6 separate regions of the Homo sapiens genome follow, and all the other regions are reported to be linked to region 3. Evidence: microRNA targets listed by miRTarBase, many of them from high-throughput screens and not tested one by one. Region 3 holds a microRNA gene; each other region holds the end of a gene's coding sequence.
What was found. Region 3 holds the annotated microRNA hsa-miR-98-5p (UGAGGUAGUAAGUUGUAUUGUU, at 1,788-1,809, shown strand). A microRNA usually pairs through its seed, bases 2 to 8, with sites in the 3' UTR of a target mRNA and lowers its output. Matches are read on the target gene's strand: a 7mer-m8 pairs with bases 2 to 8, a 7mer-A1 pairs with bases 2 to 7 and ends in A, and an 8mer does both.

Region 1 (5,390 bases), not on the chromosome of region 3:
CTGCTTCTTTCCCTACACCTTTGCTTTTTATGAGCCACCTTCACCCCTGCTGCATGAGCATTTGAGGCTGAATTTGTGGTGTTTGTAGCTAACTGATGATTGATGAGTGGGCCCTTGCTGTGTGAGTGCCTGACACATACAGAGTGCTTGATGTATATGTGTTGAAAGAACGATTATTGACAAAAAGAAGATTGAAGGTGTGATTGTAAGAGACTTTAACATTATCTTGGTTGTTTTTTTAATTGTGAAGAAAAATACCGATGGCTAAAGATTTTAGTTGCTCTATGACCCAGTCAGTAATAACCAAATGTGTGTGCACCTGTGCTCTGAGGTCACACACACCTGCATGTATATACATTTGTACTGTACAGAGAGGAAACAAGGGAGAGACTTTCCCTCTTTGCATTGACATTTCATCATTAGATGTGTTGCCAGTTGGCACCACCCTTCCTGCTCTGTTCTGCTATTGTCCCCTCATGATTTGTCCTCTTGTGTGTCACCCCCTAGTCTGACTGACAGTACTCCACAAGCTTGCCTGCCATGGGCTGTCGGGATGTCCACGCAGCCACAGTCCTTTCCTTCCTGTGTGGAATCGCCTCAGTAGCAGGCCTCTTTGCAGGGACTCTGCTTCCCAACTGGAGAAAATTACGATTGATCACATTCAACAGAAACGAGAAGAACCTGACTGTTTACACAGGCCTGTGGGTGAAATGTGCCCGGTATGACGGGAGCAGTGACTGCCTGATGTACGACACTACTTGGTACTCATCAGTTGACCAGCTGGACCTGCGTGTCCTCCAGTTTGCCCTACCCCTCAGCATGCTGATCGCCATGGGTGCCCTGCTGCTCTGCCTGATTGGAATGTGCAACACTGCCTTCAGGTCCTCGGTGCCCAACATCAAACTGGCCAAGTGTCTGGTCAATAGTGCAGGTTGCCACCTGGTGGCTGGGCTGCTATTTTTCCTGGCAGGTACTGTGAGCCTCTCCCCATCTATCTGGGTCATCTTTTATAACATCCATCTGAACAAGAAGTTTGAGCCAGTCTTTTCATTTGACTATGCAGTGTATGTCACTATTGCTAGTGCTGGGGGCCTGTTTATGACTTCCCTTATACTATTTATTTGGTATTGTACATGCAAATCTTTGCCTTCTCCTTTCTGGCAACCATTGTACTCCCATCCACCCAGTATGCATACTTACTCACAGCCCTATTCAGCACGCTCTCGCCTCTCTGCCATTGAAATTGACATTCCAGTAGTTTCACACACCACTTAATGGGGAAATAGTTAATTGTTAAAGAAAACTTCTTGTAGCCTCACATTCCCCTTGTGCAAAGAGCTCTTTTGGACCTACATACATTTTCCTTTGTTTTTGACCAATCAATGAAGCCAAATTTATATGTCCTAGTAGAATGAAGTGCTGCTAGTTTTTATGAGAAGTATATTATATTAAATGTGAATTTTTTAAATTTTGCTTCTTATACTGGAAGGAATTTTAGCCTTCATATTGATATCTAATTAATTATTTAAGTGGAAGAGGCCTGCATCACAATTGAGGTAATGTAGAGCAACATGTTAAAGAATGATGGTTAGCAGAAGCTGTTGTATACAATCTTCATGAAAATTTCAGTGTGTATTTTTCTTTTTCTATAATACCTTTAACTGCAAAGAAAAGGCAGTTTCAAATATAAGAAATTTATTTCAGGTAAGGGTAATATTTTAATAGTAGTCAATAATCTAGCTTAAGGCTGTAACTCTTCTATCGGGGCTAATTGTATGAATAGGTGTCAGTATGTTGAAGATTACTTTCTTTTGTGACTTTCTTCTACCTCATGCCACTGTTTAAAAGTAAAACGTATTTTAACGATGTTAGAATAAGACTACCATTCTAAATATCACCTACTTATGAATAACATGTAATAATTTTTAACATTAATGATTCCATAAATTGTATTATTGGGATTAGAATGTGCTTTATGACAGGTTAGTGTTTCCTCTGAGGCAGAAAACTCTTTTTTGGAGATATCTTCCATCAAGCAGTACTCGTGCCCATATACAATCTCTTAGTGGCTAGGAGAAATAAATAAAAGGGCCATAATGGTTTGTTCTCTTTCAGACATAATTTAGTAGGGGACAAGAAGTCTGTTCTTCAGTGAGTACACTAGAGATTTACTCTGGTGACTGCCTTTTGAGTTATGGGTGAAGTAAGGTATGGCTTTACCATAACCTTGATTCATTCACCCTTGATTCATTTCTCGCCCCCGTCACTGATTATTTCCTTGAGCATATATCTCTGCCTAACACTTTAGTAGGTGCTATAGAGGATACATGAAAAGTATGAGATCTGGTTCCATCCAGTAAGACATTTTAATAGAGAAGATCAAAATGTTACCTGGCAGTTGGGGAATAATCTGACTTCGTTGGCAGTTGGCCTTAACTTCTTAATCATTGATCCAGGAATATTTCAACCAGAGACACAACTTTCTGGCAGACAGACAAATTGTACAACACCAACAATATCCTGGACCTTGAAATTCTGTTTACTTCAGTCCATTGTATCCTTTAAGGCACCTGTGCTAGCCTAGATTTTGTAATAACACTGATTTATGAGAATGGACAAAAGTGGTAGGGAAATTGTTCCCTCTCCACTTCTGAAAGTATGATGATGTATTAAGGATGGAGGAGTTATTAAAAATGTCTCTTCTGATGAGGTAACAATTAGATGAAACCATGTTAAAGCTGAGATGAACACTTAGAAATTCAGGGATATTGGGTCTTTAGCCTTATGAATTTGAGCTGCTTATTTAATTGGTGTAATTTACTACATATTAGTACTATATTCGTAAGGATTTTTTATTAACCATTACAGATTTTACAAACAGCTAGTTATATGGTAAACAGATTATTATGCCTTTTTGCAATTCTGAATATGATTCTAGTATTTGTGTAGATGTATTTGGTACTTTTTCCCCTAATTCCAACACTAGTTTATATATATAGCGAATAAATCTAGTTGTATAAATTTTTAAATGCCGTCAGTAGAAAGCACACAAGGTTATGATTTTTTTAATTACTGGCTTCTGATTTCTTTCACTTCTGATCCTTTTCCTTTTTCTCAGATGTAGCTGAGTCTTGATCATTTTAAGACAACGATGGGTAGAATTTTGAGATTAATGTTAATTTTCCCTTTTTGTTAATTTCAGTCCCCTCTCACTATGCTTTTGTCCAGAAGGATCAAGAATTCTACCATCCCTTGGGTCTTTGTGTATAAACAATGTTAAATAAAGGTAGACTCAGTCTTTAAGATATTAGACAGTTTTTTTAGTCCATGGGATTGTAAATATAAACATTAACTTTCCTATAAGAATATTTTGGCTTTGTAATCTATAGCCTCAAATTGGTATTTATTATGGATTCACTAGACAAACAGCTGTTTCCTTATTGTCTTTTTTCTTTAGTGTTTCTGATTTGCTATCAGTAGCTGTTTTTAAAGCCGTCCAAGGAAAATAATTATTTACAGTTTTTGAAGTCACTTTTGAGCCCTCATCAAGCTCTCATTGTGATGGGAGGGATACCTTTTTGTTGTTAAAAGCCTATTATTGTTAAAGGCCTTTTATGGAAACCAACTTGGAAAACAACCTTAAATGTGGATGTATCAGATTTGGTTTATCCAGCCATGGGAGAGAAAACAAACCTAAGTTTACTTTACTTGTACATATACACTACAATGGATAGTATATTTGCTGTAAACTACAATGTAAAACCTCAATAAAAGTGCGCTGTACTTCTTAATGTTTATTAAAAGATGTATTTTTACAAGTTTCTGCTTCTGTTTTTTTCCTCAGTGTTTTAAGGTGAAATATTTTGAGAAATGTTTCTCAGATATATGTAAATTGAAAAAGACAGTTCCATTTAAAGCTCTAAAACGTGTGAACTGGAAGGCTGGGTGCAGTGGCTCACGCCTGTAATCCCAGCACTTTGGGGGGCCAAGGCAGGCGGATCACTTGAGGTCAGGCCCTTGAGATCATCCTGGCCAACGTGGTGAAACCCTGTCTCTACTAAAAATACAAAAAATTAGCCAGGCATGGTGGTGTGCACCTGTAATCCCAGCTACTCGAGTGGCTGAGGCACGAGAATTGCTTGAACATGGGAGGTGAAGGTTGCAGTGAGCTGAGATCATGCCACTGCATTCCAGCCTGGGTGACAGAGACTTTGTCTCAGAAAAAGGAACTAGAAAGGAATTGGAAAACATGGAACTTTTATTCCACAAGTGCCAAGACGTTTTATCCATTTCTAAGAGTAGTCCAAGTAGTCCTGTGGTCCTAACAGTTCACTGGGCTTTTTTTTTTCTCCTTTTCTTTTTTTTTTAAACAGTCTGCAAAGAGACAAGTTGTGGGCCAGATTTGCCTCATCAATGGAGTTTTCTCAGCCTGTGATCTTAGAGACTGGGAGTTCAGTTCTCAAACAGTTAAGTAGAGGGAACTTTCCGTACTCTTCAAAGCTCGAGGTTACCAGGAGAAGTGGTCCTGACAGGCATGTCACCTCAACATTTCTGAAACCTGTGATGAATGTATAGTTTTGGATTACACCTGTGTTGGGGCAGTTCTTACATACACTTCTCACTGAAACCTGTGGCTCTGATAGGTTAGATAGCTGAGCCATATGTTGCACTGGAAATCAGAAGCTACTTCAAACTGGGTTACACTAACGAACAACAGTCCGTTCTGGACTGTTGTGCAGGTTCACTGAGGGTGAATAAATGGTAGAGAAACCATTCGGGCTAACCAGGTTCACCAGAGACTGGTTTACCAACCAGAAGTGAGAAATACATGTTACTTAGAACCATCAGACACAACCAGTTTTATCCAAGGCCCAGCACATCTTATTCTGCCAAAAAGTGAGGAAACGCTCAAAGAATCATGGGAGCTTATCAAATTTCACAGGCGCCAGATTGAAGGTGCTCCCATTGGCCAAATCTGGGACAATCTGAACATCAAAATAAATGATAGTAATGGGTTATAACTCATTGAATAAAATACAAATCCATATGTCCATGCTGATATAAATAGGGGAAGAAAGAAAAGCTCTTTCTTATAGTAAAATACCAAATAAAAAGTAGAGAAAAAAATGAGAAAAACATCAATGGGGTTAAAACTAGTTGAATTTTTTATGAGAGGCAGGATATTTGCTTAGTCTCAAAGTACAAAATGGCTTATTAATTTCAGAGAGGAAAATAACTTTATAGTGGATAAACTTGGCAACCTTAGCTGAGTGATCAAGTTTGTCACCAATAATAAGAAAAAGCAACATCATGCACTTTCTGATATGATGCAAGGAGAAGGCCACAATATTTCTGAGGTATTGCCTGAGTCTAATCTTGAAACATGCAGC
Region 2 (5,390 bases), not on the chromosome of region 3:
TGGTGGCTCATGCCTGTAATCCTAGCACTTTGGGAGGCTGAGGCAGGCAGATCACTTGAGGTCAGCAGTTCAAAACCAGCCGGGCCAACATGGTGAAACCCTGTCTCTACTAAAAATACAAAAAATATTAGCCATTCGTGGTGGCACACGTCTGTAGTCCCAGCTACTTGGAAGGCTGAGGCAGGAGAATTGCTTGAGCTCAGGACGCGGAGGTTGCAGTGAACCAAGATTGCACCACCGCACTCCATCCAGCCTGGGCAACACAGTGAGACTCCGTCTCAAACAACAAAAAAAGTTCCAACCCTCTAATCATGCCTTGGTCTTTCTGAGACCCCTTCCCCTAATCCTGAAGCTATCTAGGGACCCCCAGCCATTAGTCATGTCATTAGCATGCAAAAGATACGTTTTGTTTTTTTTTTGTTTTTGTTTTTGTTTTTTTGATACCTAGTCTCCCTCTGTCACCCAGGCTGGAGTGCAGTGGCATGATCTTGGCTCACTGCAACCTCTGCCTCCCGGGTTCAAGCGATTCTCCTGCCTCAGCCTCCTGAGTAGCTAGGATTACAGGTGCCCGCCACCACACCCGGCTAATTTTTGTATTTTAGTAGAGACAGAGTTTTGCCATGTTGGCCAGGCTGGTCTCAAACTCCTGACCTCAGGTGATCCACCCTCCTCGGCCTCCCAAAGCGCTGGGATTACAGCCATGAGCCATGGCGCCCGGCCAAGATACCCTTATTCCTTCAGAGATTCCAAGAGTTTGGGGAGCTATGTGCCAGGAACTGGGGACAATGAACAAATATTTATTATTATACCACAGCTGAAATGCCATCTTGTAGAGTCCTTTCCTGGCCACCGTTTTTGAAGTAGCACAGATACTGATCACTCATAGCAGCCTGTCATATTGCCCAAGTTTGACATTTTCTTGCATCTGTGCGTGTTCAGTAGGCTTTTTCTTCAACTCGAACGTAAGTTCCGTGATCCTAGGTTTGGGTCTGTCCCGCTCACCACGCTATCCCAGCACCTGGCACATAGTAGATGTACAGTAAATACTACGTGAATAAGCATGTGCATGACTCAGTGATGCTGAGGGGTGACCCTCAATACAGCAAGGCATCCCTCACCTGGCCGTGACCCCTTCTTCTGTGTATTGTCTTTCTCCAGGTGAACCAGAACAGCACCTCCTCCCACTTAGGAAGCTCGTGATTTCCAGGTAAGCCTGTGGACTTCACTGGGGGTTCCCGCTGCTTCTGGGTGGCCCCGGAGCCACTTTTCTGAAAAGCCACTTTTCTGTCCTTCCAGAGCCTCCCTGGGGTAGACATGTCCACTAGGGTGGGCTGACCCAGCCCCATCAGAGGTTTCCATGGTGACAGACTGGGGGTGCTATTTATAGAATCAAGGCTTAGTTTTCTAGCTCTGGATCAAGGACAGGGAGAGGGATTAACGCTGAACCAACCAGAAAAAGGTTTGTCTGACACTGGGGACAGGGCAGGAAGCACCACTATGATGGGGGAGGGGGAGATTCTGGAACCATTTTTGCACAGAATGCTGTCTGCCAGTCTGGCTTCTAAAAACAGCATCAGCGTTGGGCCAGAGCAATTAATGTTCTAATAACAGTCACAAGTCGTTCTGTTCTAAGAATAACCCCCATGGCCGTTGGGCCAGGTACTGGTCCTGTGTTACTCATTTAACCCTCAGCATCCTTGGGAGGCGGATGACATGATCATTCCATTTTACAGAAGAGAAAACCAAAGCACAGAGAAGGAAGGGCTTTGACTTGCCCAAGGCTACACAGCCACCAAGGGACAGAATTCCTCCCAGGTTTGCTTTTAGTGAATGATTTTAAGTGCACATTTATCCATCCATATTCTACTAAGGGGTGGGGAAAGGGATTTTTTTGAACTTGGTAATTCAAAGATTTAAGATCTCCAGGTTTAACTCCCTTCAGCCCCTGTTTTCTTCATCTGGAGAATGGGGATTCATCATTGCCCACCTCTGAGGTTGGCCATGAGATGGCGTGAGCTGGCCCAGGTGGGAGTGCTTGGAAACCGTGAAGTGCTGGGCCCTCGCTGTGGACTTGGGCACTGGAGTTAAGGCTGCATGAGTGAGCTCACTTCCTTCTGTCCCCCAGCCTCTATGATCAGGTTAAAGGAAACCTCAAGAGAGGTTATTTTACATGGAAACACCTTCCAGCTTGGACTCTTATTTTTAGTCTCTGTATCTATTTTTAAACAATCAGCATATGTTTTAGTTTTTCTTTCAATTTACTTTGCTCCAACCTGCAAGGACTCTGTCATTATTAGGGTTCCCATCTTGAGTTGCACTAAGATCCCAGAGTTTTTGTTTTTGAGACAGAGTCTCACCCTGTTCCCCAGGCTGGAGTGCAGTGGCACGATCTCAGCTCACAGCAATCTCCACCTTCTGGGGTTCAAGTGACTCTCGTGCCTCAGCCTTCCAAGTAGCTGGGGTTACAAGTGTGCGCTACCACACCCAGCTAATTTTTGTATTTTTAGTAGAGACGGGGTTTCACCATGTTGGCCAGGCTGGTCTCAAACTCCTGGCCTCAAGTGATCTGCCCACCTCAGCCTCCCAAAGTGCTGGGATTACAGGCATGAGCCACCACACCTACCCAAGATCCCATAGTTCTATTCCAAAGAAAAGAACCCTCTCATGAAAAACAGCTTTCCTCCCTGTTCCTCACTAACTGTTCCCTCGCTGCCTTTCTGCAGATCATTAGTAGAATCCTGGACCTTCTCATTGACAAAAGCAGATTTGTTACTTGTTTTACTGTTTAAATGAGATACCATATAGAGGTGCTTTAGCTGAATCCTGGGTACAGAGTTGGCCTTGAACAAACATGAGTCCTTCTCTTGCCTCCAAGAATTCATCAGTATTTATCACATAATCACTGTCATTTGCTCTGTGTCCATAAGAAAAGTGTATATTTGAGGTCAAGTGGATGCAAGATGAGATGTGGGGAAGAACCCAGGAAACGTTTTTAAATTTAAACTCTCTCTGGCCATCTGGGATGCATTCTTAAAACATTACATGCTTATGCGAATGGATGAAGACAGTATGTTCTGCAATCACATGTATAAATATAAATGATCTATTTCAGAATTGTTACTCTGAGCCTAACACAGTCTTCCCCACTTTCAGATCTCCGCAAATGACTTCATTGCCAAGAAGAGAAGAAAATGCATTTAAGTGGAAATCGGACCTCTAATCCAAGCATATTGCTTGCTATTAATCGCCAAAACAGGACTGCTGATGAGGAATGTATTTGCATATGTTTGCAAAAGCTGAATCATTGAAAACGTACCTTGAAACTCTCTATCTCTGGACACTCCAGGGTAGAGAATGAAGGGTATGGAAGTAGTCCGGCTTTTGAAACTTAGGTATTTTATATTTTTCCCCTCAAGAACTTTTTTTTAAGAGACAGATTTGCCATCCTCCTTAATTTGCAGGACTGCCTTGGTGGCTTTGTTTGCTGGGACAAGGCCCACAACCTGTGCCTCTCCTATTGACCCTTACTTTGAATTCAAAGAATCTATTTAAGAGTTTAATATATGAGGCTTTCTTTGATTCCTCCTCAGTTCTACCTAGTTTCACAGAGGAAAAAAATACTCTTTGAATAAAGTGAACAGAGGCTCATTTGTTTGTGCCTTACTTTACTGAATGAATAGGGTTTTTTTTTTCTTTCCATACTGGATTTTGTCAGGTAGATTTGTGATGAGCAAAAAGCTGGAGAATATAGGTGCATGTAAGGCACAGCTGAATTCCTGTGTCAGGGTCCCCAGGGCCACCCCCAGGATCGATGATTGGCTAGAAGAACTCAGAATTCAGAAGAGCTATTATCCTTATGGTTATGGTTTATTACAGCAAAAGGATAAACATTAAAATCAGCAAAAGAGGCCGGGTGGAGTGGCTCACGCCTGTAATCCCAGCACTTTGGGAGGCCAAGGCAGGCAGATCGCCTGAGGTCAGGAGTTCGAGACCAGCCTGGCCAACATGGTGAAACCCCGTCTCTACTAAAAATACAAAAATTACCTGGGCGTGGTGGTGTGCACCTGTAATCCCAGCTACTCAGGAGGCTTGAACCTGGGAGGCGGAGGTTGCAGTGAGCGGAGATCGTGCCATTATACTCCAGCCTGGGTGACAGAGCAAGACTCCATCTCAAAATAAAATCAACAAAAGAAAAAGGTGCATAGGGCAGAGTCCGGGAGAGACCGGCCTCAAGCTTCCAGTTGTCATCTCCTGGTAGAGTCTTACAGACACACTTAATTTTCCCAGCAATGATATGTGACAACACGTACTAAATATTACCAGCCAGAAAGCTCACCCTAGCCTTGGGGTCTAGGTTTTTATTGCATGTCAGTCACATAGGGCAATCACATGACCGACTTTAGTTACTTAATCACCAGCTGCTCCAGAGGTCAAAATGATACAGCATGGCCCAAGGTCCCCACCATAAATCACATTATTAGCACAAACTATCTGGCCTGGTATGGCCCAAGGCCTGAGGTATACAAAGACACCCCTACTTGGGAGGATATTCCAAGGACTTAGAGGTTATCTCCCAGGAGCCCATTAAGGCCAGTTTTTTCTTTGAGATGTGCTGGGTTTGGACACTTCAAGCCTGCTGAGTTAACCCTTATAGCACAGTCCCCAAATGCTGAGGGACCAACTGGGCCTACAATAAGTTTGTATCTTTAAGGGTTAAGGTGTTTTACCCATACCTCCTTGCCTTATATCTCATGATAATATGAGGCTTTTGGAAGGCAGTGACTTATTGTGGCTTGGGGCATGGGTTTTTGGAGTCAGGCTGACCTACTGGCTGTATGGCTTGAGACTTTGTCTCTTCATCTGTAAAATGGGGAAGTTAAAACTTCATGGTGTGTATGTGTGTATGTGTGTGTTTAGACAGAATCTCGCTCTGTCACTCAGGCTAGAGTACAGTGGCGTGATCATAGCTCACTGCAGCCTCGGTCTCCTAGGGTCAGGTGATCCTCCCATCTTAGCCTCCTGAGTAGCTGGGCATGTGCCACCACACCTGGCTACTTTTTAAATTTTTTTTTTTCTGTAGAGACGAGGTCTTTCTATGCTGTTCAGGCTGAACTTCATGGGTTTATTGGGGATGGCTAATGGATGACATTGGCGGTGGTCCTTGATACCAGATAAGCCCTCAGTGTGAAGCAGCTCTTATTTTTCCTTGTCTTGAGATTGCTCTGGAATGGAAATTAGGCTTTTTTGAAGGTGTGACCCTTTTTGTTCATTTCTTCAGCAGTTACTTTTTATTTTTTAAATGTTTGACACACAGTCTCTGATAAATGATCATTCACCAATCACCGATTACTCTCCTTGCTCTGTTAAGTGTGACACTGTCCCTTTGAGAA
Region 3 (3,000 bases):
TGGGACCTCAGACAGAGATCTTTTAAATGTCTGAGTAAATGTTGATAGAATTATACATTACAGTGTATCACTTGATATAAAAGGGGGAAAAACTGATAGAAATACAAAGAAATAAGACTTGAGAGTGAAAGACTTTAGTATACCCTACTCAGCAGTTAAGGAATCAGGTAGATTAAAAATAAGGGTAGTGAAGTGTTCAGTTAAAATAACAAGGTTGATCTAACAAATATCTTTATATAGAACTTTTTACCTAATACACACATTGTTTCAAACTTGATATAGGATGAAAAATAAGTGAACCTAGCCTGTGACTGAAAAGACTAGAGTGGACAAAATAAAAAATAAGCCCCATGAAGGGAAAAAATACATAGATGAAACCAAGAAATTCTTGCTAGAATGATCATGATCGTGCCCATCCCTAAGGGGTTTTTATTATCCTTTCCTTCCATATTTATTTCCCCCTCAGCCCCAAACAATTCTTGAACCTGAGTATGTATAGAGAAATTGGTCATATATTTGCACAGTGAAATGATCACCTTCCTTTGGTCACATGGCCAAAGCATTCTCCATTAGATCACTGAACTCCTAGATGGTCTGGGTGGAGGATGGTGACTATTACAGTTGACCTCTATCTTAGGTGCTTGCAAAGTCCCACATTGGTCTATCCCTTCTTTTTGCAGTGTACTGCATCTAAGTCAAATGACTCCACTGAACAGAATCTCTCAGGTAACTCTCCTTCCCTTTCTCCCTTCTTACTAATCAATTGGTTGCTTCTTTATCCTGATAGTTCCGAGTAGCTGGCCCACATAGGCTGAAGATGGACACTGGTGCTCTGTGGGATGAGGTAGTAGATTGTATAGTTTTAGGGTCATACCCCATCTTGGAGATAACTATACAGTCTACTGTCTTTCCCACGGTGGTACACTTCTTCTCCGACTGGCTCTGTTCAGGTTCTTGTTCTGGTTATTATCTACTTTGTTCTGGCATGGGTAATGAGGTCATGTGTCTTGTTCATTTCCTGACTGCAACTCTGTCCTCTGAAACAGCATGTTCATGTACATCTTTGAAGTGGCTGGTCCTTTGATGACCACCATGGTGTGGCACTTCATGAGAATAACTGATGACAGTGGTTCTCAAATGCCAGTCCTCTGTGGAAACGAACAAAATCAAGGAGCTTTAATGCCTTTTTCATAAAGCTGAATTTATTCCATTTAAAAGGCTGTTTTTGTATTTAGAGATCATATTCCTAATTCTGTGGTACCAAAATATTTTTATTAAATGATGTTGATTGGATGTTTTTTCTTACATGGCTAAACTAAAAGTTGGCAACCCCTACATTAGTCTCTACTTTTTGTTCTTTTTTTAATTAAATTTTATTGGTCCATGGAATCTAAAAGTCTAGGAACATTGTCTTGGATAGTGTGCTGTTCATGAAGGTAGCTCTCTGGGCTTAGTGGTATGACTGCCGTATGTTTCCTATTCCCTCTGATCTTCTTAACAATGGTCAGTAGCCATTTTGTGATTCTATCAGTTGGTTCATGTGATATCATATGTCTCCCCCACCCATATTTCCTCAGAACATTCTTCTGCCTCCCTACACCTGTCTCCTTTCGCACTTGAGTTGGAAAATGATTGTACCAAAGCCTGCACAATATTTTTTAAAGCAGTGAAGTAGGGTAGATGCCTTGGTACCCTTAATCTAGCAAAAGATCTTTAAAAGAGTCTGTCACCATGTAAAATGGCCTTTTGCCTGCTGCCCTTATTAGAGGATTCTGCTCATGCCAGGGTGAGGTAGTAAGTTGTATTGTTGTGGGGTAGGGATATTAGGCCCCAATTAGAAGATAACTATACAACTTACTACTTTCCCTGGTGTGTGGCATATTCACACTTAGTCTTAGCAGTGTTGCCTCCATCAGACAAAGTTGTAGATGTTCCTTGGATAATTTGGACTGGAAGAAAAGAGACATGGAAGGGGACAGATGGTGTTTAGGGTGAGGCAGATGTCATTATAAAGTGACTTGTCTTTCATTAATTGGAGCATATAATTATTTTACCTTTGGGCATGAACTCATTTTGCTATTCTTCAACTGTGTAATGATTGCATTTTATTAGTAATAGAACAGGAATGTGTGCAAGGGAATGGAAAGCATACTTTAAGAATTTTGGGCCAGGCGCAGTGGTTCATGCCTGTAATCCCAGCATTTTTGGGAGGCCGAGGCGGGTGGATCACCTGAGGTCAGGAGTTCGAGACCAACCTGGCCAACACGGCGAAACCCCGCCTCTACTCAAAATACAAAAATTAGCCAGGCTTGGTGACACTCGCCTGTGGTCCCAGCTACTCAGGAGGCTGAGGCAGGAGAATTGCTTGAACCCAGGAAGTGGAGGCTTCAGTGAGCTGAGAACACGCCACTGCACTCCAGCCTGGGCAACAGAGCAAGACTCTGTCTCAGGAAAAAAAAAAAAAAAAAAAAGATTTTGAAGGGCTGGACGCAGTGGCTCACGCCTGTAATCCCAGCACTTTGGGAGGCCGAGGTGGGTGGATTGCTAGAGCTTAGGAGTTTGAGACCAGCCTGGGCAACATGGCAAGACCCTGTCTCTACTAAATATACAAAAAATTAGTCAGGTATGGTGGCACATGCCTATAGTCTCAGCTACTTGGGAGGCTGAGGTGGGAAGATCACCTGAGCCCGGGAGGTGAAGGCTGCAGTGAGCCATGATTGTGCCACTACACTCCAGCCTGGGCAACAGTGAGACCCTGTCTCCAAAAAAAACAAATAGAGTTTTGAACGAAATTCTGACCATTTCTTGCTCCAAATAGATGAAGTGGGAGGATCAATAGGATTTTGGTAGTTAGATTTTCTGTGTACCTATAGGTCAGAGACATTTAGCCTCACCCTATATGGCCTGAAATCTTCCCCCTTCCACCTGCAGGGCACAGAAAGGATTTTATTCTTAGAATCCACAGAGTCAGAGCTCCAGTTCTTGCATTCTTGGGACAGA
Region 4 (5,390 bases), not on the chromosome of region 3:
CGCCGCATGTGATACCTTTGAGGGCGCGGCGGGGGAGGGTAGCGTCAAATTTCAAAAAAAAAAAAAAACCAAACCCACACAGCCCCGGCGGGCGGGCGCGCGCGATGGGCGCCCTTTGGCTGCGGGAGCGAGTGGAGGATGCTGGGAAGGAGGTAAAATGGCCACCGGCGGCGGCGCGGAGGAAGAGAGGAAACGGGGGCGGCCGCAGCTTCTGCCCCCCGCGCGGCCCGCGGCCCGGGGCGAGGAGGCCGACGGCGGCCGCGAGAAGATGGGCTGGGCCCAGGTGGTGAAGAATCTAGCCGAGAAGAAGGGCGAATTCCGCGAGCCGCGGCCGCCGCGGCGGGAGGAGGAAAGCGGCGGCGGTGGAGGGAGCGCCGGGCTCGGCGGCCCCGCGGGCCTGGCGGCGCCGGACCTCGGCGACTTCCCACCGGCTGGCCGCGGGGATCCGAAGGGCCGTCGGAGAGATCCGGCCGGCGAGGCGGTGGACCCCCGCAAAAAGAAGGGCGCTGCGGAGGCGGGCAGGAGGAAGAAGGCCGAGGCGGCGGCGGCCGCCATGGCGACCCCGGCCAGGCCCGGCGAGGCCGAGGACGCGGCCGAGCGGCCCCTCCAGGATGAGCCGGCGGCGGCGGCAGGCCCGGGCAAGGGTCGCTTCCTCGTCCGCATCTGTTTCCAGGGAGACGAGGGCGCCTGCCCGACCCGGGACTTCGTGGTAGGAGCGCTTATCCTGCGCTCCATCGGCATGGACCCGAGCGACATCTACGCGGTCATCCAGATCCCGGGCAGCCGCGAATTCGACGTGAGCTTCCGCTCAGCGGAGAAGCTGGCCCTGTTCCTACGCGTCTACGAGGAGAAGCGGGAGCAGGAGGACTGCTGGGAGAACTTTGTGGTGCTGGGGCGGAGCAAGTCCAGCTTGAAGACGCTCTTCATCCTCTTCCGGAACGAGACGGTGGACGTGGAGGACATTGTGACTTGGCTCAAGCGCCACTGCGACGTGCTGGCCGTGCCGGTGAAAGTGACCGACAGGTTTGGGATCTGGACCGGGGAGTACAAATGCGAGATCGAGCTGCGCCAGGGGGAGGGCGGGGTCAGGCACTTGCCAGGGGCCTTCTTCCTGGGGGCCGAGAGGGGCTACAGCTGGTACAAGGGGCAGCCCAAGACATGCTTTAAATGTGGTTCCCGGACCCACATGAGCGGCAGCTGCACGCAGGACAGGTGCTTCAGGTGCGGGGAGGAGGGGCACCTGAGCCCTTACTGCCGGAAGGGCATCGTGTGCAACCTCTGTGGCAAGCGAGGACACGCCTTTGCCCAGTGTCCCAAAGCAGTGCACAATTCCGTGGCAGCTCAGCTAACCGGCGTGGCCGGGCACTAAACACCCGCCTGCCTGCCAGGGTGAACACACAGCCAGCTTATCCCTCTTAAGTGCCAAAACTTTTTTTTAAACCATTTTTTATCGTTTTTGAAGGAGATCTTTTTAAAACCTACAAGAGACATCTCTCTATGCCTTCTTAAACCGAGTTTACTCCATTTCAGCCTGTTCTGAATTGGTGACTCTGTCACCAATAACGACTGCGGAGAACTGTAGCGTGCAGATGTGTTGCCCCTCCCTTTTAAAATTTTATTTTCGTTTTTCTATTGGGTATTTGTTTTGTTTCTTGTACTTTTTCTCTCTCTCCTTGCCCCCCTCCCGCCCTCCCCGCCCCATACCTTTTCTTCCCCTGGATTTTCACCCTTTGGGCTGCCTTGCTCATCTTTATGCCCCAGCACTAGGTACGGGGCCCAACACGTGGTAGGCACTCCATCAGTGTTTGCTGAATTGAAAACATTGTTGACTGTGGCTTCTATCAGAGTGTCTACCTTTTGCAGCTCTTCCCCTCCCTCATTTAATTTGCTGCTTTTAATCTACGTGGTCTGAGAATTTGTGAAACCAGTGTTGTTAGAAGTGTATATAATCTGAATCAATAAGCTCTGAATGGTGGCCAAGGGCCTCTCTTATGGCACAAAGATGCATGGACTTCATGACAGCTCTTTTGGTGGCTCAGAAGCCATTTTTTATAGAATCATGGAATCTAGAATATTCCTGCTGGAAAGAACCTGAGAGTTGGTTTGGACCAATTCCCTGGTTTTCCAGCAGATGAAACAGGCCCAAAGAGGTTAAATGACTGGGTGAAAATCACATAGCTGTCTGGTGCCAGAGCCAGCCTATAGTAGAGTCCCCTGACCCCAAGCCCGGTGCTCATTCCACTACCTCTCACACTTCACAACAATTTCCTCAACACTTGAGGGCCCAGAAAGTCTGATCTCTCCAGAATGATCAGCCCAGAGGAATGCTGAGAAATCACCTGGAGGAGGGAGCAGAAAGAGAAGGTTTTTAAGGAGGGGCTTCTGAATACTTGGGAGATACGGAACGGACCAAGGACCACACTCCAGGGTGCATTCGTTGCTCCCTGGGGCACCACTTCTGGATTACAGTGTGCCAGGTCCTTTGGAGGCCCTACCCCTTCCCCATTCATTGCCACCAGTGAGAAATGGGGGTGCCCCTGTGTAAAGAAACCTACCAAAGGTTTACATTTGCACCTTAGCCTCAATAGCTACGAACCCTAGAGAAGCAGCTAGCTGGAGCTCATGTGCAACTCCTGATTCTCAGGAGAAAGATGGATTTTAACCCAAAATTATGAGTGAGCTGTTAACTCTAAAATGTACTTGGGAGATAGGCCAAGCGAGAGGTCATGGGCCAACTAAGTGTTATCCAGTAGAAAAGACAGTACACTGCTTTTCTTTTAGTGTTTGCTTTTCCTTTGCTATATGTTTTGCTATTTCCTTGTGGCTTAGAATGTAAAATTGATTGTTAAAAGTTTTGTTCTGAATAAATATTTATCTTTTGTATTGCTAAAACTGGTGCACTATTTCCTTTCAAAGTGTTAGATGCACAGTTACCCAGCTCCAGACCGTATTTCAATCCCACTTCCCCTACACTCCATTTGTTTACCTTGCTAAATACATTTCCCACCCCTGCAGGCAACACTTAGCACCTACTACGTTGTGCCGGTCCCTTTGCATCACAATCAGCACACTGTTAAAACGGGTTTTAAGTCCTAACACAGTTCCAATAAATCAGAATCACTGTTAGAGGAAGTGAAACATTTTAGTTAATCATCCTCAAGCAATTCTGATGGGCAGCCAGGTTTGAGACCAGAGTATAAGATGTGTGAGCTGAACCCTGCCCTCAGGGAGATTACAGACCTGTGGGAAAGAGAGGTGGTTTGCCAGCTTCCTCGTCTTTCTGTTACTGTAAGCGCGCGCTGTGGATGGGATGCAAAATATTCTTGGGTTCTGGGAAAATGCCATTTCTTCCAGCTGTTGAAAAAGCGGGATCCAGGGAGCTGACTTCTCCAAGTTAGCCCCCACTGGAGACTGGGCCTGCAGGCAGAATAGGGTCAAGGTCCCTGGACTTCAGGTCCAATACCCTGCAGACCCCAGATACAACTCTCTGAAGGATTTTCCAGCTGGTGATGCTAGGATGATCTGATCCTGAGAGTTAAACGTTCCCAGTATATTGACTCTGACTCAGTGATTTGAGGATATTTCCAGAGCTGATCTGGAGTTGGGACCTGGTAGGCTCTTGGGAATCCTGTCTTTCAGAGCCAGTTCAACCCCTCTCCTTGTCTCCCAAAGCAAGCAGACTCTCCCCTCCCTCCCATCCCTCTTTCCCGTCTTTGCCAGCGGTTTCCCTCCCTCTCACAGAGCTGGAGGCCAGGGGCCAGGAGAAAGCCTGCATTCACCATACTCTCCACTCCGTTCCTCAAAGCAGGCACTGTGCCAGGGAGCCTCCTTGAAGGAACCTTCCCTCTCCTGGCCCCATCCCCCCACTCTCCAGGAGGGAGGAGAGGAAGAAACTGTTTCCCTGCCCATCCCCCACAGGATCTGCTTCAAGGCCTCCTGCCTGGTGGCCCAGGGACAGCCAGGGGCTGGAGCTGAACAAACCTCCCCCAGCTTCCTTTCCTGATCAAGCAGCCCTCAAATTACAATTCTTCACTGTTTTTGGGCTCCTGGAAAGTGTGCAGAGATGCCCGGACTGAGGCTGGTTGACTAGGGGACATTGATTCATTCCACTTCAACAAATACGGAGGGCATTAGAGCTGGGCCCCATGCAAGGCCCTCTGCATAGGCTGCCTTGAACAAGACAGTGCACTTGCAATGGAAGGTACAGATAAGTAACAGTAGGCAATGTTTACAATCATATATTTAACAATTTTTTTTTGAGACAGAGTCTCACTCTGTTGCCCAGGCTGGAGTGCAGTGGCATGATCTTGGCTCACTGCAACCTCCACCTCCCGGATTCAAGCGATTCATGTGCCTGAGCCTTCCAAGTAGCTGGGATTACAGGCACGTGCCACCACGCCCGGCTAATTTTTGTATTTTTAGTGGAGATGGGGTTTCAGCATGTTGGCCAGGCTGGTCTCGAACTCCTGACCTCAGGTGATCCACCTGCCTCAGCCTCTGAAAGTGCTGGGATTACAGGCGTGAGACACCGCACCCAGCCAACATTTGTCCTGTATAGAATTGTCTGAAGTAAAGGTTTCCCTAGAAGAGAAAACGTCCTGACTGAAACCTGCAAGATGAGTAAGAACCAGGCTAAGAGTGAAGAGACAGCCAAGCAGCAGAAATAGCAGATGTAGAGGCCTGGAGGCCAGAGAGCACACAGCGTGTTCGGACTGGCCAAGAGTCAGGGGAAGATGTGGCTGGGAGAAAACGCCGAGAAGAGGTGTCACAGGGCTTACCAGCCATATTTAAAAACGTGGATTTTGTCCTCAGAGCCTCCAATCAGGCCTCCTCCATTCCATTCATTCTTTCAACACATGCCTGTTAAGCGCCAACTCTATAGGGGCCTTTTCTAAGCGATGGAACACAGCATGGAGCAGGATAATCAAGTCCCTGAAGCTCAGATTCTAGAGTCACACAAGTACATAATTACAGACGATGATGCACTAAAAGAAACATACAGGGTGAGATCCCTGTTTAACAAGCAAAGCTGATCCAGTCTTAAGGATCAGAGAAAATGTTTGAACTGAGATGGAAAAGACATAAAAGGAGTTAATCGAGAGATGGGGCTGGGGATTAAGGGATGGCAAGGGTATTAACCTAGGCAAGAGGGATAGCAAGTAAAACAACCCTATAGTGGGAGGAGGCATGACCACTTCTAGAGACTAAATGAATCAGTCTAAGTTTAGAAACAGAAACCACTCTTGCTGTTGAAGAAAATGCTGGTCCCTGGGCTGGGTATTAGGAATGACTCCTAGAACACCATAGAACTGCCAGGGGAGTTACTACCTCTCACAGTCAGAAAGACAGAAGCCAGGAGGCCACCACTGGAAAGGCTGAGCATGAGGACA
Region 5 (5,390 bases), not on the chromosome of region 3:
TCCCAGTCATTGGAGATCTCAGGGGAGGTGCAGCTCAGGATTAGGGTGCAGGGGGAGATCAGGGAAGGCTTTTGGAGGGTTGAGACTGGGGCCATGAAGTTGGGGCAACATTTGGGAAGAGGAAAGGGGAAGCTGGAATTTGGGAGGCAAAGGTGTGGTGGCTGAAATGAGTATGGGGTGGGGGACCAAGGGAGGCAGGCCTAGCTGGGACGGAGAAAAACACTGTTGGGGGAGATGCAGTGTAGGCTCCATATGGGAAGTAACAGGGAACTACCACAGGTTCTTGAGCAAGGGAGTGACAAGATAGAATCCGAAATTTTGTATCTGACTGAGCCTGTAGACCAGGATGTATGGGGTTGGGGTGGGGGCGGCACTAGGAAACTACTTCTTCCATCTGCTACCATTTAGCCCACAAACCGTGAGCAAAGCCTGGGGCTGGATGTGGTTGAGCCAGCGGAGGCAGGCCCGGGGCTGTCCTGGTGGAGAAGGGTGTGAGGGCTGCAGGTGTGCAGCAATGGAGAGGATAGTGCTGGCCCTACTTGCTGGGAGGAAGGGACAGTGGTGGCTCTAGGCTGGGGAGCTCTGAGGGAGGTGCCCTGCTCTGAGGAGGCACAGCTACACATTGTGGAGGCCTGATCTGAGACGGGAGACATGGCAGGACCCTCAGGTTGAGCCCCCCAAGCCACAAACACTGGGGGAGCTTTTCCAGGGCGAGCAGAGGCCAGAACTGAAGCGGGGGCCGCGGCTCCATGGCCAGCCCCCTCTGAGGTGATCACACCTGCAGAGACGAGGAGGAGCTGAGACGCTCTCTGTCTGAGTTGGCCGACCCCAACCCCAAGGTCATCAAGCGGATCAGCGGGGGCAGTGGCAGTGGCTCCAGCCCTTTCCTGGACCTGACTCCCGAGCCTGGGGCTGCCGTCTACAAGCACGGGGCCCTGGTGCGAAAGGTGCACGCAGACCCTGACTGCAGGAAGAGTATGTGGCCGAGTTGCGGGGGGCGGGCGTCTAGGGGATGGATGGGAGTGGGCCTGTTCCAGGGCCCCCTGACCTGTCTTCTCTCCCCGCAGCACCTCGGGGCAAGCGGGGCTGGAAGAGCTTCCACGGGATCCTCAAGGGCATGATCCTCTACCTGCAGAAGGTGCGGGGTCAGGCCAGGGGGCTGGGGCTGGGACTGAGTTGGCTGGTGGGTGTGGGGTGATGGGTGGGAATAGGAGGGGCTGGGCCAGGCTGCATTTGGGGCCAGGACAAGATGGACACCCCTGCAGGAGGAGTACAAGCCTGGGAAGGCCCTTTCAGAGACGGAGCTCAAGAATGCCATCAGCATCCACCATGCCCTGGCCACTCGTGCCAGTGACTACAGCAAGAGGCCCCACGTCTTCTACCTGCGCACAGCTGACTGGCGGGTCTTCCTCTTCCAGGCCCCGTGAGTGCCCTCCTCCTGCCCATCCCGGACCCCTTCCCCCACCTCCCATCCTGCTCCCCTCCCTGTCCCTGGATTTTTTCATTCCTTCTCAGGCCACACTTGAGCCAGGACTGGCATCCTGGGACAGAAACCCTGGGCCCAGGTCCCAAAGGGCTGTGCTTTCTCCCCAGGAGCCTGGAGCAGATGCAGTCCTGGATCACTCGCATCAATGTAGTAGCCGCTATGTTCTCTGCGCCCCCCTTCCCAGCTGCTGTTAGCTCCCAAAAGAAGTTCAGCCGCCCTCTCCTGCCCAGCGCTGCCACCCGCCTCTCCCAGGTAGCCCAAGCTCTGTCCACCTAGTGCCAGTGGGATGGAGGGTGTTAGGCTCAGGCCCACTGCACTCAAGGCTGCTGCGTGTGATCGTGGAGATGTCCCCTGCACCAGGATGCTGGCCACAGGGGTGAGCAGGGACTGAAATCCAGCCCCCACTGGGTCCCGCTTGCCGGCTGGGAACCCAAACATAGTGCTTTGTTTGTCCAAAGGAAGGGGCATCTTTTTTTTTTTTTTTTTTGAGATGGAGTCTCGCTCTGTTGCCCAGGTGGGAGTGCCGTGGCACGATCTCAGCTCACTGCAAGCTCTGCCTCCCGGGTTCACGCCGTTCTCCTGCCCCAGCCTCCTGAGTAGCTGGGACTACAGGCACCTGCCACCACGCCTGGCTAATTTTTTATATTTTTAGTAGAGACGGGGTTTCACCGTGTTAGCCAGGATGGTCTCGATCTCCTGACCTCGTGATCCGCCCGCCTTGGCCTCCCAAAGTGCTGGGATTACAGGCGTGAGCCACCGCGCCCGGCTGGAAGGGGTATCTTTTTAAAAATCTGCAGAGGCACTGTATAGGGCAGAGTGACCATGACCATGCCTCCCCCTGGCCGCTAGGAGGAGCAGGTGCGGACCCACGAGGCCAAGCTGAAGGCCATGGCAAGTGAGCTGCGGGAGCACCGGGCCGCCCAGCTGGGCAAGAAGGGCCGGGGCAAGGAGGCTGAAGAGCAGCGGCAGAAGGAGGCCTACCTGGAGTTTGAGGTGAGCCTCCCTGTCTGCCCCTCTGTCCACACACGCAGGCCCATACTAGGGTGAAGGGCATGAACTCTAACAGTGGAACCGGCCGGAGGTCCTTGGGCAGGTTGCTTAACCTAAGCCTCAGTTTCCTCCTCTGTGCAACAAGGATAACATTTGACATCCACTGGGGTCTCGAGGTGAGGCATGTCTCAAGCGTGCCATTTCCCCAGCTCTAGTAAAGGCTCAAGACACATTAGGTTATAGATGATGGTCCCAGGAGAGCCCAGAGGGGGCACCAGCCCGCATGGGACCATCTCACAGTCCTGGGTGGGCACCTGCCATCTTCTGCCCTGCTGGCGGCCCTCCCTGGTCCAGATGGTGGGGTGGGCAGAAGGCAGAGAAGAGGCTCTCACAGCCCCTGCCCCTCTGCCTCAGAAATCCCGCTACAGCACCTATGCAGCGCTGCTTCGGGTCAAGCTGAAGGCAGGCAGTGAGGAGCTGGATGCAGTGGAGGCAGCACTGGCCCAGGCCGGGAGCACAGAGGATGGACTCCCTCCTTCTCACTCCAGTCCCTCCCTGCAGCCCAAACCCTCCAGCCAGCCCCGGGCTCAGCGTCACAGCTCAGAGCCTCGGCCAGGGGCAGGCAGTGGGCGGCGGAAGCCCTGAGATGAGGTTTAGGGTGGGGAGTGCCTGCTGGGCACCTGAAGGATGACATGGCCCTGCCTGAGCCCGGGCCGGCCTCGGGCCACCCACGAGGGCCTCCCGGCCTAGGGCCCGACCGCGCCGGACGCGGTGTCCGGGGCAGGGCAGGGCTGGGGCCTGGGCCTCAGGAGCCTAGGCTAGGGGCACCTCCGAGAGCCCCTTTTTGTGATAATGTTTTGCACTTTTTCGTACAGGGTGGGCGGGGGCGGGAGGGGCTAGCGCCCCTGAACTTTTGATGCTTTTTTTTTGTGTGGGAGAGGCCTGATGCCGTTTCTGCTTTCTGCTGAGACCACCCCCACCCTGACACCATCAGTCCCCCTCTGTCCTGGGGCCTGGCTTGGACAGAGACCAGGATTTGGGGCTGAGCTGGTTTCCCCTCCTTCCTCCCCAAGGGCTTACTCTTTCTCTTGCTGGAGGTGGAGGAAGGGCGTCCATGCCAAGGCCCCATACCTGGGCCGGGGGCAGCACGGCCTGGCTTTCCCCCGCTTCAGTGGGCCTTGCCCTTTGTACAGCCTCCACCCCCATTAAAACTGCTCTGGACTTGCTGGCTGGGCCTCCTCCTTCTCTTCTCACCATGCCTGGCATGTGGGCAGGGTGGGTAGCTGGTTCCAGGGACAAGAGTCACATCAGGGGCTGCCATAAGTTGGGAAGGAGGGGTCCTCCCCTTCCCATGAGAATCCTTTATTTGTCCCAACTGAGGGGTGGGTGTGGGGTGTTAAATAAGATTTGAAATAGGTGGGGACGCTGTACAGGGGGTCCGGGAAGGGGGCTGGGGGCAGGCAGCAGGTCAGTGCACCTGAGGCTGGGGGTGCCCGTGGCAGAGCCCTCCTGGTGGCTCAGGGGGTGGGCCCAGCTTCTCTGCCTCCTGCTCCACTGACTGGCTCCCGTACGCACTGTCTTCCTTCACCTCTGCTGGGGGTAAATGGGGACAGGAATGGGATAGTCAAAGCCTCAGGCCTCCGGCCCTCCAGGTCCAGATCCACCTTCCAGGGAGGCCCCTTTACCTGTGCTGGGCAGCTTGTCTCGGGTTTCTGGACCCCTCAGCAGCCTCACTCCCTCCTCTAGGCCCATGTCAGACAGGGCCTCCAGTAGACCTGCCAGGTCCCCGCCAGCCAGCTGAGAAGACAGAGGAATGAGGTCTGAGTCATGGTTAGGGCATGTGCTCGGGAGCCCTGGGGCCAAGGAGGCACCTGGACTCAGATCGGGAAAGGAGGCTGGGGAGGGGGCAGGGCACAGGCCAACCCACCTCGTAGCTGCGCAGGAGGCTGCCACTGGGTGAGGTTGTCTGTCGGTACGTGTCTACCAGGCTGCGCAGCCCCAGACGCTCTGCCAGCTCTGCCCAGCTGCCCTGGGCTTCTGGCCCGTCTAGCAGCTGCTCCAGGTTCTGCAGAGCTGTATCACCAAGTGACAGTCCCGGCCCTTAGGGGGACACACATACAGACATGTCATTTACCTCCAGAGTTGGGTGGGGACATGGACACCTGAACACTGCCTTTCTCCCAAGGTAAGCGACAGACAGGACCATGAGGGGTGATGGACGGGGCTGAGGGTAGAGAAAGGGAGGCCTCCTTCAGAGGTCCTGAAGGAGAAGAGACCTCTGTGAGGAGTCAGAGGAGTCGGGCTGGGGATGCCTGATGCTTCTCACCTGCTGGGCTGGGCGGGGTCAGGGGTGGCTCCATGGTGTTCTGAGCAGCATTTAGCAGCAAGGTCTTCACCTGGGGAGACAGCCGCAGTTCTGACTACCTCCCACCTCGTCCTTAAGCCTGTGTCTTTAAGTCCAGATACTCTGGACCCCGTCACTCAGAGCACTTCTAGTCCCGGGCTGGCCTCACCTTGGTGCTGCAAGTGAGGTCAAGAGGCGTGTGGCCCCGGAAGCTGCTTCGGGTGTCCTTCTCAGGCCCTTCAGAGTCCGAGTCGCTATCAGAGGTAGGGGGTGAAGGCAGTGGGCACAGGGGCTCCTCGTTTTCAGCATGGATGTCAGCACCTGGGAGAGGGAGGCCGTCATGGGGCGGTATGGTGGGGGCCTACATTAAGGACTGCAAAGTCGGGGGACTGGGAGGCACCTCTCTCCCTTCCCCCCACCCTGTTCAAGTGCCCCTGAGGGTGAGACTGACCAGCCTTCAGAAGGAGGCGGGTGAGGGTCGGGTACCCCAGTCCAGCTGCCAGGTGCAGGGGTGTGTTTCCCGCAAAGGTGCGAGCGTTCACGTTGGCCCGGAGCTGGGGGTGCGAGCAG
Region 6 (5,326 bases), not on the chromosome of region 3:
CTGCCAGGGTAAGAACCCTCAGGAGGCCGAGAGTTACTGTGCACAGTACAAAGTGCTGACGAGGAATATTGAGTACATCGCCAAGTGCCTCAAAGACCACAAGGCCACCAATTCCAAGGGGAGTGAATGGAAGAAGGTGGCGAAAGTCATAGACCGATTCTTCATGTGGATTTTTTTCATTATGGTGTTTGTGATGACTATTTTGATCATAGCAAGAGCGGATTAGTCACAGATATTGGCTTTGCTATCTGGGTAGAAATTAATACAATTCCCTGTGATCTATTCCAATGTTCTTCCAAGATTTTTGTTCATCTATAATTTAGGGGTTATGTTGTCTGTGCTTTTTATTTTTAGCTTCAAATGAATGTCGAAGCTATCTGCTCTGTTAAATTAAGCAGAAGAACCAAAATTTCAAGGGTAGGAAGATGGAAGAAATAGGGAAAGAGCCCTTTTATAGCCCACCGTAGTGGTGGGTGACTGGCCTCTAGTTTATATAATTATTTACCTCTTTGGCAGTACAGATAACAAAATACACTTTACTGGTAAAATTTAAAACAAAAAAGGCAAAACAAAACAAACTCATTTTCCCCTTAGTTCCCATTAAAATATGCATTTGAAAAATGAAATAGTCATATATATATTAGTGTGATTTAAGTCTCAATGGTACCTTATTCAGGCATAGTGCATTTGAAGTCATATCTCAAATAGTGGAATAAAAGGTTTTGTCCCATGTAAAGAAAGTCTAAGCATCAGCTGTTTAATGGGGAAAAGAACTTTCTTCATAATGGTGATGTCGTATATGTTGGTTATGTTTTATATAAACCCAAAAGATGAAGTCATTCCTGCATTTACCCTTTGATTAAAATATGATAGATGAAGCTGTTCCTGCATTTAGTCTTGTATTAAAATAAGGTGATTAGCAAGCTGGGCTCATCCATTCATTCATTGAACTTTTCACCAAACATGGATCACGTTTTTTCCTGCATGTAATAAAAGCAATATGATTCACATTTGCATGGGGTGTCACAGCAATTCTTATGCACAAGCCTGATCACTTTGATCCTCACAACAACTCTGTGAGTTGGGAAGGCGAGCGTTACTATTCTTTCTCAGAGAAAGAAACCGTGGCTTAAAAGGAGGATGTAAGTGACCTGCCTCCTCAACATCCAACACGGTGTAAGTGGAACTGGGACTCACCCCTCAGCACTGGGACTCAGAGTTGGGCTACATCTGCTAAAGTCACCCTGCTTTTGGCCATGACAAATTATGATTTAGCACAGGAGAGACTGAGAGATTCTTATTCTTAATTCTGAACTTTCTGCCCTAATTTACTTCCTGTATGTCTCAACTTCTTTCCTACTTTCAATAAAATGTGACTTCAAATTCACCCCCCATTCCCACCTAGATTAAAATGATCCAAGGCTGGGTGCAGTGGCTTACATCTATAATCCTGTTTTTTTGTTTTGTTTGTTTGTTTGAGAGGGAGTCTCACTCTGTCACCCAGGCTGGAGTGCAGTGGCACGATCTTGGCTCACTGCAATCTCTGCCTCCCAGGTTTAAGCAATTATCTTGCTTCAGCCTCCCTAGTAGCTGGGACTACAGGCGTGTGCCACCACACCCGGCTAATTTTTTTGGTATTTTTTGTAGAGACGGGGTTTTGCCATGTTGGCCAGGCTGGTATGGAACTCCCGGCCTCAAGCGATCTGCCCACCTTGGCCTCCCAAAGTGCTGGGATTACAGGCATGACACCGTGCCCAGCCCTATAGTCTCAATATTTTGGGAGACTGAGGTGGAAGATTGCCTGAGCCCAGGAGTTCCAGAGCAGCCTGGGCAACATGCAGAGAACCTGTCTCTACAAAAAAGTTAAAAATTAGCCGGGCATGGTGACAGACAACTGTGGTCCCAGCTACTTGGGAGGCTGAGGTGGGAGGATCACTTGAACCCCAGGAGACTGAGGCTGCAGTGAGCTGTGATTGCACCACTACACTAGCCTAGGTGACAGTGTGAAACATTCCCTAACTGCCAACTCATTAACTATTCTTTTTCCAGTTAAACAGAGGTGGAGAGAAAACAGGAGTCAACCTAGGAAGGGGAGGATGATGTTTGGTTTAAACATATAGACATTGCTTTTTGTTTGTTTGTTTTTGTTGTTTTTTTTTTTTAGACGGAGTTTCACTCTGTCACCCAGGCTGGAGTTCAGTGGCCTGATCTTGGCTCACTGCAACCTCCGCTTCCTGGTTTCAAGTGATTCTCCTGCTTCAGCCTCCTGAGTAGCTGAGACTACAGATGCGTGCCACCACGCCTGGCTAATTTTTTGTATTTTTAGTAGAGACGGGGTTTCACCATATTGGCCAGGCTGGCCTAGAACTCCTGACCTCGTGATCCGCCCGCCTCAGCCTCCCAAAGTGCTGGGATTACAGGTGTGAGCCAAAGCACCTGGCCGGCATTGTTTTTTAATTCTTGTGTTTACTCATTCCAGAAAATATTTGTTGTGCACCTATTATATACTTAGTGGTATGTATGCCAGCTGCCTTGGAGGGAACAAGTATGAAACGTGGCTTCTACCCTCCAGTTGCTCACATGTTGCTCACAGTTCAGTGGAGGAGATACCAAGGAAATAGGCAAACATAGTCAAGTGTAAAACGTGCTATCACAGAATCACGGACAAAACACCATGGGCACAATGATGATGAATCTGTTTGAGGGAAAGCTTAGGAAAGACTTTGCAGGGTATAACATTAACATTTGAGTTGAGGTTTTTTATTGTTGTCTTTTGCTTTTGAGATGGAGTCTCACTCTATCACCCAGGCTGTGTAATCTCGGCTCACTGCAACCTCCACCTCTTGGGTTCAAGCAATTCTCCTGCCTCAGCCTCCTGAGTAGCTGGGACTACAGGTACGCGCCACCTCGCCTGGCTAATTTTTGTATTTTTGTAGAGATGAGGTTTCGCCCTGTTGCCCAGGCTGGTCTCAAACTCCTGACCTCAGATGTTCTGCCCGCCTCGGCCTCCCAAAGCACTGGGATTACAGGCGTGAGCCTCTGTTTCCGGTCTTAAGCTGAGTTTTGAAGGTTGAGTAGGAGTTTGCTAGACAAAGAAAGAAATGAGGGTAAGGATTAGAAGGGATTGGTGAAAGAAGAGTGTGGGCAGAGCTTAGAAGAACAGAAACCAGGCTGGGTGCGGTGGCTCACACCTGTAATCCCAGCCCTTTGGGAGGCTGAATCGGGTGGATCACCTGAGGTCAGCAGTTTGAGACCAGCCTGACCAACATGGAGAAACCCCGTATGTACTAAAAATACAAAATTAGCTGGGAGAATCGCTTGAACCTGGGAGGCGGAGGTTGCAGTGGCCAAGCCTGGGCGTCATTGCACTCCAGCCTGGGCAACAAGAGCTAAACTCCACCTCAAAACAAACAAACAAACAAAAACAAAAAAGGAAGAACAAAAACCTTGTTTAGTCACGGAATGGAATCAGACAACTTTTCTTCTTATTTTATTTTAATTACAGAAGTAATTTTATCAGTTAGAGTTGTATTTGGCTGTGAATAACAGAAAACCCAGTGAGCCATAACTTAAGCAAACAGAGGTTACTCATCTCACACAAAAATAAATCCAGAGCTGCAAAGCCCAGGGATCTTTCCATCTTTCCTCTCCTCCATTTGGAAGTGAAGCCCAACAGCCTGAGGCTTGATGCTTCGCGGTCACAGAAAGGCGGTTGCATCTGTAGGCTTTGCAGCCACATTCCAAATGGGAAGAAAAAAGAATGGAAGGCCAAAGAGACATACCAGCCGAACTTCCCTCTTTAAAAAAATAATAATAATAATAAAAATTTTTAAAAATGCTAGGCTGGGCGCAGTGGCTCATGCCTATAATCCCAGCAGCACTTTGGGAGGCTGAGGTGGGCAGATCAACTTGAGGCTGGGAGATCGACACCAGCCTGGCCAACATGGCAAAACCCTGGCTCTACTAAAAATACAAAAATTAGCCAGGCGTGGTGGTGGGCGCCTGTAATTCCAGCTACTTGGGAGGCTGAGACATGAGAATTGCTTGAACCCAGGGGGCAGAGGTTGCAGTGAGCTGAGATCATGCCACTGCACTCCCCTCCAGCCTCTGCGACACAGCAAGACTCTGTATCAAAAAGAAAAGAAAAGAAAAGAAAAAAATCCTAGAAGCAGAAGCACATCCATGACTTTCTTCTGTAGCTCATTAGCTAGAAATGAATCACATGCAAGAAAATCTTGGAATAGTTTTACCTTCCCAAAGACAATCAATGTTATCTTTATAAGAAGGAAAGAGAGAGTAGATGTTGGGTAGATAACAAGCAGTTCCTGCCTCAATTATACAGCCACACTATAGTAAGGGCAGGATATAAAAGAATAACAGGCCAGGCACGGTGGCTCATGCTTGTAATCCCAGCACTTTGGGGAGTCGAGGTGGGTGGATTACCTGAGGTCAGGAGTTTGAAACCAGCCTGACCAACATGGAGAAACCCCATCTCTACTGAAAATACAAAATTAGCCGGGTGTGGTGGCACATACCTGTAATCCCAGCTACTCGGGAGGCTGAGGCAGGAGAATCGCTTGAACCCAGGAGACAGAGGTTGTGGTGAGCCAAGATTGCGCCCTTACACTCCAGCCTGGGCAACAAGAGCGAAACTCTGTCTCAAAAAAAAAAAAAAAAAAAAAAAAGAATAACAATTACTCAAGTTCCACAATCATAGCAATAACAACTATTCATTTACTATTATTTTCCTTCAATCATATTTATGTGTCTAGTTTCTCTGCTATAATTATAATCATTATGTATTTACTATTTTGTCCTGCTATATTTATTTATTTATTTATTGAGACAGAGTCTTGCTCTGTTGCCCAGGCTGGAGTGCAGTGGCTCTCTCTCGGCTTACTGCAATATCCGCCTCCTGGGTTCAAGCGACTCTCCTGCCTCAGCCTCCTGAGTAGCTGGGATTACAGGTATGTGCCACCACACCCGGCTAATTTTGTATTTTCAGTAGAGATGGGGTTTCTCCATGTTGGTCAGGCTGGTCTTGAACTCCTGACCTCAGGTGATCTGGTTGCTTTGGCCTCTCAAAGTGCTGGGATTACAGACATGAGCCACCGCATCTGGACTTATTTTCATTTTTGAGATGGGGTCTTGCTCTGTCATCCAGGCTGGAGTGCAGTAATGCAATCACGGCTCACTGAAGCCTGGACTTCCTGGGCTCACGTCATCCTCCCATCTCAGTCTCCTGAGTAGCTGGGACTACATGCATGCATCACCAAGCCCAGCTAATTTTTTAATTTTTTATAGAGATGGGGTTTTACTATGTTGC

Region 1: the mRNA of CLDN12 is a reported target of hsa-miR-98-5p. Seed matches in the 3' UTR shown: 8mer at 1,825-1,832.
Region 2: the mRNA of TPST2 is a reported target of hsa-miR-98-5p. The part of its 3' UTR that is shown has no 7-base or 8-base seed match.
Region 4: the mRNA of ZCCHC3 is a reported target of hsa-miR-98-5p. Seed matches in the 3' UTR shown: 7mer-m8 at 2,242-2,248.
Region 5: the mRNA of NFKB2 is a reported target of hsa-miR-98-5p. The part of its 3' UTR that is shown has no 7-base or 8-base seed match.
Region 6: the mRNA of CHRNA9 is a reported target of hsa-miR-98-5p. The part of its 3' UTR that is shown has no 7-base or 8-base seed match.

The regions. Positions count from the first base shown.
Region 1 is chr7:90,412,137-90,417,526 of GRCh38, forward strand. CLDN12 (claudin 12) reads left to right here. Exons shown (of 4, transcript NM_001185072.3): 4 at 508-3,818. The coding sequence starts at 541. The coding sequence ends at 1,275. Among named protein-coding and RNA genes, the nearest start is that of CLDN12, 11 kb to the left of the region's middle.
Region 2 is chr22:26,524,031-26,529,420 of GRCh38, reverse strand. It overlaps TPST2 (tyrosylprotein sulfotransferase 2), which reads left to right. Exons shown (of 7, transcript NM_003595.5): 6 at 1,159-1,207; 7 at 3,154-5,390. The coding sequence ends at 1,200. Among named protein-coding and RNA genes, the nearest start is that of TFIP11-DT, 14 kb to the right of the region's middle.
Region 3 is chrX:53,555,108-53,558,107 of GRCh38, reverse strand. It overlaps MIR98 (microRNA 98), which reads left to right and starts at 1,767; the gene lies at 1,767-1,885. HUWE1 (HECT, UBA and WWE domain containing E3 ubiquitin protein ligase 1) reads left to right here. Exons shown (of 84, transcript NM_031407.7): 60 at 681-726. MIRLET7F2 (microRNA let-7f-2) reads left to right here and starts at 834; the gene lies at 834-916.
Region 4 is chr20:297,430-302,819 of GRCh38, forward strand. ZCCHC3 (zinc finger CCHC-type containing 3) reads left to right here and starts at 141. Exons shown (of 1, transcript NM_033089.7): 1 at 141-2,892. The coding sequence starts at 158. The coding sequence ends at 1,369. RefSeq lists silencers at 245-334, 515-584, 3,776-4,070.
Region 5 is chr10:102,400,931-102,406,320 of GRCh38, reverse strand. It overlaps NFKB2 (nuclear factor kappa B subunit 2), which reads right to left. Exons shown (of 23, transcript NM_001322934.2): 18 at 5,272-5,374; 19 at 4,990-5,141; 20 at 4,803-4,872; 21 at 4,404-4,576; 22 at 4,162-4,273; 23 at 3,797-4,069. The coding sequence ends at 3,945. PSD (pleckstrin and Sec7 domain containing) reads left to right here. Exons shown (of 17, transcript NM_002779.5): 12 at 785-975; 13 at 1,068-1,138; 14 at 1,266-1,423; 15 at 1,594-1,738; 16 at 2,336-2,479; 17 at 2,891-3,702. The coding sequence ends at 3,121. Among named protein-coding and RNA genes, the nearest start is that of NFKB2, 7.9 kb to the right of the region's middle. RefSeq lists a silencer at 2,215-2,509 and an enhancer at 4,750-5,390.
Region 6 is chr4:40,354,295-40,359,620 of GRCh38, forward strand. CHRNA9 (cholinergic receptor nicotinic alpha 9 subunit) reads left to right here. Exons shown (of 5, transcript NM_017581.4): 5 at 1-923. The coding sequence ends at 226. Among named protein-coding and RNA genes, the nearest start is that of CHRNA9, 22 kb to the left of the region's middle.